2 separate regions of the Homo sapiens genome follow, and region 2 is linked to region 1. Evidence: fine-mapped expression QTL. A gene starts in region 1. The other region holds a variant in brackets. All regions are shown on one strand. Distances are between the middles of the regions. Region 1 holds the start of TTLL3 (tubulin tyrosine ligase like 3). Region 2 overlaps TADA3 (transcriptional adaptor 3).

What was found. PIP is the estimated chance that this variant, and not a neighbour inherited with it, causes the effect. A credible set is the group of variants that fine-mapping cannot tell apart.
Region 2: its variant is the best candidate, but not a certain one, in a credible set for the expression of TTLL3 in nucleus accumbens (GTEx, PIP 0.54).

Annotation. Positions count from the first base shown.
Region 1 is chr3:9,808,616-9,812,998 of GRCh38, forward strand. It overlaps TTLL3 (tubulin tyrosine ligase like 3), which reads left to right and starts at 1,647. Exons shown (of 14, transcript NM_001387446.1): 1 at 1,647-1,779; 2 at 2,006-2,094; 3 at 4,328-4,383. The coding sequence starts at 2,047. ARPC4-TTLL3 (ARPC4-TTLL3 readthrough) reads left to right here. Exons shown (of 12, transcript NM_001198793.1): 5 at 4,328-4,383. RefSeq lists an enhancer at 719-868 and a silencer at 1,349-1,828.
Region 2 is chr3:9,786,315-9,790,697 of GRCh38, forward strand. TADA3 (transcriptional adaptor 3) reads right to left here. Exons shown (of 9, transcript NM_006354.5): 3 at 3,399-3,649; 4 at 3,195-3,300; 5 at 885-1,026; 6 at 692-795. It also overlaps a transcript of OGG1 not described here. Among named protein-coding and RNA genes, the nearest start is that of TADA3, 4.0 kb to the right of the region's middle. The variant A/G (reference allele first, on the strand shown) is at 1,993.

The DNA of each region.
Region 1 (4,383 bases):
CAGCTGGTCACTCAACAACCCTCACAGGACAGCATTGCCTGGGTGAGCCAGCCACAAACCTCATTTGTCATGTATCTCTCTCCCAGGGTCCAAATTCCCTAAATCACCTTTCCTGGGGGGCATGCTTTTCGGGAAGTCCAGCCATCAGCTAAAGGGGAGTTGGGGTCAGCTGGACAGGAAGGTGGGGGATCCACCTTCACTCTTAAGAGCACATCTACCCAGTGACTGACAAAGCTGGGCTCTTACCAGGACACTCTTCGACTCTGCCTGCGGGGGCACTGCTAGAGTTTGCCTCTCAAACTGTCCCTGTGTGGTCCTTCTGTGACTGGCAGGCAACCTGAGTGATAACAGGTGTTTAAGAGACAGGCTTTGGAGTCAGACCTGGGTTCCAGTGCTGCCTCTGCTCTGTGATTTGAGGCAAATTGTTTAACATCTTGGAGCCTTACCTCCCCTGTGACTTTTGAGGATAATATTTTGCCAGTGCTTCCAAAAAGGTTGCTTACAGTCTTAGCCTGGGGGCCAGGCATAACTGTTGTGAACTATTACATTTCTTTCGCAGTTGACTCAAATGATTGTTTTTCCATTTCCAGTTTCTGGGGAGGGTGTGCTCTGCACCTTCTTGTTACCCCCATATGCTGCCCTCGCTAAGGACCTTACCCTAGGCCCATCTGCCAGGCCCAGCAGGTCTGATCTGGCCTCACCAGGCTCCAGCCACCCTGGCTGTCTTGTAGTTCGCACAGAGGTTCTTACCCTTCTCAGGGCTGTTGCTGGGACTGTCCCTTCCCTGAAGTGCAGTTCCTCCCCTTTCCCTGGTGACTCCTGACTCCTGGCATTTACACCTTCAGCTTAAATGCGCCACTTTATCTAAAATGCGCCCCCTTCCTGGTTTCACCTCTGCTTGTTCATTGCCCTTATTATACCTGTAAACTATTCTCTTCCTTTGTTACTTGCTTTTTATTCCCCTCACACTGGGCTTTTAGTAAGCTCCATGAGGTCAGGGGCCATTTGTTAGCGCCTATAAATACTGTGGAATCACTCAAACCCTAGGGCCGGTGGCACCAGGAAGTACTGGATAAGGAACCGCAACACTAACTAACTGGGGCTCAGTGCTCTCTTCCGCCTTCAGTGCCCTGCTCATCAAGGGTCTGGGTGAGGCCCCAGGTCATAAGGAAGCCCTCGCTCGACTGCCCCGGGGCCCATCGCAGCCCCCAACCAGCCCCGAGCGGTCTGATGGTGCCCAGGGAATGGTTTCCAAGGCAATAGCAAACGGGGCGGGGCTTGGAACGGAGGACAAGGCTCGAGCCTAGGCAGGAACTTCCCGGGAGAGGAGGCGGCGACGCGGAGGGGCGCGGGATCAGGGGCCCTGGGAGGGCGAGCGCGGCGAGGGGCGCATGCAGGGCCCCGACGCGCCACTGCTCCTGAGCGCGAGGGAGCTGGGGCCCGGGCGCCGGGGCTCGGCCTCCTGGTACCGCCAGGAGGGCGGCGCGGTGTGCAACTGGCTGCGGAAGCCGCAGCCGCTCGAGCCACGCACCAGTTTCCCCTCGGCGCGCCGCTCCGAGTTCCGTCCACCCAGGAGGCTGCCATGGGCCGGCCCTGCCTCCGCCCAGTCCGAGGAGGGTCACGCAGGCGGCAGATGCCAGGCGGGCAGCCCCGCCCCTGCGCGCCGCCTCAGCGGCGCCTTCAAGACGCTGGTCCCAGGCACCCACGCCCAGGGCGCCTCGGATACCCACCCCCTCGGCCCCCCGCACACCCCGGTCCTCGACCCCTCTCCGCAGGATGGTGAGGCCCGTGCGGCCCGCTCGCTCTGGCCTACAGCGGCTGCGAGGACGACAAGACGCTGGGGTGGAGGGACTGGGGGTCGGGAGAAGAGCGGCTGAGGGTGGGCATCTGGATGAAGGCAGGAGGAAGAAAAGAGGCGTGGCTATGGGCGGCCAGAAAAGATCCTAGGCCGAGACCCTAGGCCCAGCCTCAGTGTACCCCGCCCCTATTCCGCATCTTTCTGCAGGTTTCCCGGTCCTCTGGCGAGGATCCTCCAAGGCGTCTCACATGAACCGGCTCAGAAACGCCAAAATCTACGTGGAGAGAGCTGTCAAGGTCAGAGGAGGGGCAGGGGCGCTTAGAAAGGGCCCTGGGAGCGGCTCAGCCTGTCTCCCTGCGCTGTTTTCTTATATCCTTAAAAAACAAAAGCAAAAGAAAAAACAATAGCAAAAATCCTCAACCACCACACCCATCTTCAACTACCTCCCCGTTTACCCCTTCAGCACCAAACTTCTGGGCTCCCTCCACTCTGGTTCCCTGCGATGTCCCACTCTAATCAAGGTGCCTGGTGAGTTCCAGGGAGCCAAACCCAGCAGTGCCTTTCGGTCTTGATCTCGGTTGGGCACCCTGTATCTTTCGACACCGCTGCCCCACACACCCTTCCTCTTGGCTGTCTGACTGCACGCTCCTAGTTTTCCTTTCTCCCTCTTTGGCTGCTGCTTTTCAGCGGCCTTTAAAGGTTCCTCAGCCATTAGTGGCCCCCTGGCCCCTTCCCCAGGTCTGTCTCCTTTGGCTGTGTCCTTGGCTGAGTCCAGTCAGTGTGCTGCACCCTCTCCGTGCCCCTTCCAGCCCAGCCTCGAACTCCACATCCCGTAGATCTAGCCCCTACCTGTCATCTACACCCAGAAAACTTAACAAGCATTTCAAATTCATGTCCCAAACCAGACTTTGATCTTCCTGCCCAAACCTGTCGTCCTCCCCAGTCTCCAGTCTTTCCCATCTCTCAGTTCCTCACGCCAGAAATCTCATCTTTCTGTTTCTTCACCCACAGGTCTAATTCCATCAGCAAAACCACTTGTCATCTCCACCTCCAAAACGATTCTCAACTCTAGCACCTTCTCCCGTCTGTGTTGTAACCACCTTCATTTTAGTAATTGTGATTTCTCTCCTAGGCAAACTATGACAGCCTCCTAGCTGGTCTACCTCCATCCTGTCCCCTCATCTTTTTGTAATACAGCAGCAAGCCAAGCTTAGAAAGATTCCCTCAGTTAGCCTTTTTTGCTCATGACACTCTTAGTATGAAATCCAAGTCCGTTCCAAGGCCTGCAGGGCCTTCCACAGTCTGGCCACTGCCTACCTCCTCTGGGGCTTTCCCCATCATTTTCCATGTTCCACTCACTCTGGTCTCCCTTCAGTTCCTTCTGACCTCTCTCCAGCCTCAAGGCCTTTGCACATGCATTCCCCTCTGCCTGAACCGCCATTTCCCAGCTCTGTACATTCATGGCTTCCTTTCAACCTTCCCTGACCATGTATTTCTAAGTAGTTTCTCTGGATCCCATTAAGTATGCAGTTTCTGGAGCCAAACTGCCAGGATGTAAATCCCTGCTCTTTTGCTTAACCACTATGGGGCCTCAGGCACCCTGCTTAATTTCTCTATGCCTCTGTTTCATAGCCCGTAAAATGGAGATAACAGTATCTAATAAAAATGCATAGTATTGGCCAGACGCGGTGGCTTACACCTGTAATCCCAGCATTTTGGGAGGCCAAGTCAGGAGGATCACTTGAGGCCAGGAGTTGGAGACCAGCCTGGCCAACACAGTGAAGCCCAGTCTCTACCAAAAAATATAAAAATTATTTGGGCACCAGATGAGGTGGCTGACGCCTGTAATTTCAGCACTTTGGGAGGCCAAGGCGGGCCTTGGCCTGAGGCCAGGAGTTCAAGACCAGCGTGGCCAATATGGTGAAACCCTGTCTCTACTAAAAATACAAAAATTAGCCGGGCGCAGTGGCACACGCCTGTACTCCCAGCTACTGGGGAGGCTGAGGCAGGAGAATCGCTCGAACCCGGGAGGTGGAGGTTGCAGTGAGCCAAGATTGTGCCACTCCAGCCTGGGCAACAGAGCAAGACTCCGTCTCAAAAAAAAAAAATTATCTGGGCGTGGTGGCATACACCTGTAATCCCAGGTACTCAAGGAGACTGAGGCAAGAGAATCGCTTGAACCCAGGAGGAAGAGGGTGCAGTGAGCCGAGATTGTGCCACTACACTTCAGCCTGGGCAACAGAGTGAGACCCTGTCTCAAACAAAACAAAATAAAAACACACAGTATTGTTAGTAATGCATGTAAGTGCTCAGCATGTAGTAGGTCCTCAATAAATATTAGCCATTGCTATTATCATTATTACCATGCATATTTATTTCTCTACTTATTTATAGTCTGTTTATTTCTCCTAATGGAATATAAAAATTTCCTGATGGCAGAGTCCATAACTGTCTGGTTCACCTTTATATCCCCTATGTCTGGCACTTATGCAATACTTATTGAAGAAGTATCCTTCTCTCACATTGCAGCAGAAGAAGATCTTTACAATCCAAGGCTGCTACCCGGTGATCCGGTGTCTCTTGCG
Region 2 (4,383 bases), 22 kb before region 1:
AGCTGGGGTCCCTGTCTGATGATATGAGATAGAGACCTGCCCCTTCCCCTACCTTAGATAACCTGCAACATGTACCCAGACTGTTCCATGAGATAAACTCTTGTGTTTGAGCCAGAATAGAAAACTGAGTCTCAATGAGGTGAAAGAGTGTGAGGGTGTGTCTAAGGTCAACCAGCAGGTATAAAGACAGGGCCCCTGAAGCTAGGGTTTGAATCCTGGTGTGTGAGACCTCAAGTGAACAGTTCCCTTTTCTGAGCCTCAATCTTCTTATCTGTAACACAGCGTTAACCACTGTCCTGGCCTCCAGTGGGAGGATGTGTATAAAGCCCCTCCAACAGATGCTTAGCAAAAGTAATTGTGGAGTAAGGCTACCTTTGGGGAAAGTTGGAGAAAAACAGGGGCATGAGAGGGGCTTCTAGGATATAGTAATGTTTCATTTTGTAATCTCCAGGCTGGTAATACAAGCTCATTTGTGAAAACTGTACATTTATGATCTGTGCACTTTTCTATTAGGTGCACAAGTTATATATTATTCCCAATCTTTTGCTATATATTAGTCCAGGTTTTTACTTTTGCACCAACCTATTTTTGCACCAACCTAATAAATGTATGATAAATTCCGATAAAAAATAAGCATAACACATTAAAACACAAAGTAAATATGGTTCCTCTTTTGGGTTAGGCTGCTCACCTCCACCAGGGCCTGCAGGAGGCGCTGCGTCAGGGCACCAAAGGGGCATCCATCTTCCGGCTGTTCATGCTGGGCCTCAGACTTCTTCAGCAGGGCATCCACATCTAAGCGGGCACAGGAAAGGAGGGGAGGTGGGCTGAAGTTCTGGAATTCAAGTCCTGACCTGGGGTTGGCAGGGAGGTGAGAGGCCTACCTTTAGTGTCCAGTTCGGTCAGTGGCCCCATGAGGCCTTTCTTCTTGTCAGCCACAGCCGCTGCCCGGGCCCCATCCTTCTGCTCCTCCAGCAGGTCCTCCTGGGCCCAGCGCTGGGAGTAGTGCTTCCCCAGGGGTGGGATCTGTGGAAAAGATGGCACCCAACCCTGAGTGGGTAAGCACTGGCCAGCCATGCTTCATTCATTCATTCACTTACCTATCTTATATCTCTCTCAAGTCCCTAGTCCAAGGCCAAGCCCAGTGTCAGGTGTAGGTAAGAAAGTACAACGAAGATAAAACCTGTACTTCACACTCTAGTAAGGGAGACAGGTCCAAAAAGAACTAAGACACACACACAGAAGCCAATCTGAAATAATTCCCAAGATAGAAGGTGCAGAATACGTACACAGATTGTCTCAGGTCACAGCAATTGCCTCTCGAGAGAATTAGGAGCCTTCAGGTCACGGGTGACAGGGAATTACCTTTTGTATTGCTTGAATTTACTGCTGTCTGTATGAACTCTTTTTCAGATAAATTTTTAAGAAATCAGATAAGTGAAGTGAAAGAGAGAGATCAAAGTGTTGTGGCAGCACAAAGGAGAGACTGACTAACTTTCTGCTGGGGAATCTGAAAGAGTGCTTTGGTGGAGGTAACATGAGATCAGGGCCTTGAAGGGTGAGTCAAGTCTGTCAAGGAGACAAGAGGGAGAGAAGAGCTTGCCAGAGGCCCAGAGACCAGCGAGGAGGCTGTGGTGTCCTGGAATGAGGGCGAGATACTTGGTGGGACTGGTCAACACGGCAATGAAGAGGGATATGGCCGAGGAAAATGGAGAGGGGCACTGGAGCTGTGCCAGCAAGGACTGGGATGCGTGGACTTGATCCTGTAGATAACGGGAGGAAGAAAGGCCTGGATGCAGCGCCATGTCATGAGCACATCTGATCATGACAGCTCACCTATGGGAGGATTCTCCCTCAACATTTTTCTGTATTTTCTAAATTTTCTTTAATGGAGCATGTTTTATTTATTTTCATCATTAAAACATAGTTTTATATCTTCTTTTTTTTTTGAGACAGAGTCTTGCTCTGTCACCCAGGCTGGAGTGCAGTGGC[A/G]CAATCTCAGCTCACTGCAAGCTCCGCCTCCCGGGTTCACGCCATTCTCCTGCCTTAGCCTCCCGAGCAGCTGGGACTACAGGCGCCCGCCACCACGCCCGGCTAATTTTTTCTATTTTTAGTAGAGACGGGGTTTCACCGTGTTAGCCAGGATGGTCTCAATCTCCTGACCTTGTGATCTGCCCGCCTCGGCCTCCCAAAGGGCTGGGATTACAGGCTTGAGCCACCGCACCCGGCTTTTTTTTTTTTAATGGATGGAATCTCCTTCTGTCACCCAGGCTGGAATACAGTGGCACGATCTTGGCTCATTGCAACCGATGCCTCCCCAGTTCAGGTGATTTTCCTGGCTCAGCCTCCCGAGTAGCCAGGATTACAGGTGCATGCCACCGTGCCAGGCTAATTTTTGTATTTTTAGTAGAGACGGCGTTTCACCATGTTGGTCAGGCTGGTCTTGAACTCCTGACCTCAGATGATCTGCCTGCCACAGCCTCCCAAAGTGTTGGGATTACAGGCGTGAGGTGACTTTTATATCTTTTTTTTTTTTTTGGAGACGGAGTCTTGCTCTGTTGCCCAGGCTGGAGTGCAGTGGCGTGATCTCGGCTCACTGCAACTTCCACCTCCCGGGTCCAAGAGATCCTCCTGACTCAGCCTCCCGAGTAGCTGGGACTACAGGCGCACACCGCCATGCCTGGCTAATTTTTTGTATTTTGGTAGAGATGGGGTTTCACCATGTTGCCCAGGCTGGTCTCAAATTCCTGAGCTCAAGCAATCTGCCCGCCCCGGCCTCCCAAAGTGCTAGGATTGCAGGCATAAGCCACTGCTCCCAGCCCAAGTTTTATATCTTAAAGAAAGAAGAAAGGTTCCTCCAGAGGCCTCGAAACAGGAAGAGAGTTAAGAGGCTGTTTGGATAGAAGTTGATGAAGGCTTGGACCAAAGCAGAGGGGATGGGGATAAAGGAACATGGGCAGACTTCACTTAAGTAGATGCTTGAGGGCGTGTTGACATTTGGCTGGGGTAGAGGGGAGGCAGTGCACGGAGAAAGCTGAGTTTGGGCCTAGGTGTCTGGAGGCACTGATGGAGCAGACAGCAGACTGGGCAGGGTTGGGGAAGGAAGATGATGCATGGCTTTGGTAGCTTTACTTCTCAGGCACCTCTGAACTCTCTTGTTCCGCATCATGTCTATCAAGGCCCAGAGTTTCTACCTTGTAATGCTCAGCCTCATCTTCTGGGGGCTTCAGTAACTCCTCAAGTGTGCGGACCTCCTCGCTGGTGATGTCAGCACAGTAGGGCTCCACTGAAGCCCAGAACCTGCAGGGAGAAGCAGATCCTGAGTGGGCGCCCCTGCCCCACCAGTGCCTCCACCACCAGAACCTTGAGGCCCCCTTCTATGTTCTCTAGCCCAGAACCTGTTGGGGGCATCATTTTTGGGGATCCGTGGCACGTCGATAGGGTCATCAGTGAATTCATATTCCTGGATCTTGGGCTGAAGGTTTTTGGATTTGGGCCGTCCTGGGCCAGGGCCCGGCCCATGTCCTGCCTTCCCTTCCAGTTTCTGCTTCTTGGGCTTCCCATGTTTGGGGGGAGCTCCAAGTTCATGGTCTCGACCCAGCTTCAGGAATCGTCTGTCACCTTTCTTATCCTGCCAGTCGGTGAGGATCTGAAATTTACAGAAAGTGTCACTGAGGGGGAGAAGGGAAAACACAGAATATCTCTTTCCTCTAGTGAATAAATTAGGATCTAGAATCTACAGAGGCTCCTGGGTCTTTCCCCATCCTCTTTTTACCTAGTAAACTCTTACTCATCCTTCAAAATTCAGCTCATTTTCTGTGCCTGGCCTCCTAGAACTTTATTCATATACTTCTCATAATCTCATTCACTTGTTCATCTATACTGATTCACTTCTGTATCACCCATGCCAGTCACATACTGTTTAACAGAAGAGTCCTCTCAGCAAACCTTCACTTCGATGTCACCACTACTGAGATGCCTTCTCTCAATCAGTTACCCAGGTTCTTAGATGCTAAAATACAACTTGAGTCATAGCCTTCCTCAAGGAGGGTCCATGGATTCCCAGGGACAAGTTAATTCCATTCATCCTTTTAGGTCCAGTTGGCACCTCCTTCCTCCACAAGTCTCTGGCACTTCACAGCTCCAACGTGCACCCAATCGTGTTGTTTGGTCACACTGGAATGACCATCACACCTTGTCTCTTCAACTAGACCATAAGCTACTGAGGACCAGAAAGCCCACCTTAACCATCTCTATTTTGCAGAATACAGCATAGCGCCTGGCACACAAGGCTCAAGGCATCTTTATGCAGTGAATAAAGTCATCAGAGTAGCAAATAAATAACATCTGAAGTACTTACTTAGTGTCTGGCATTGGGCTGAG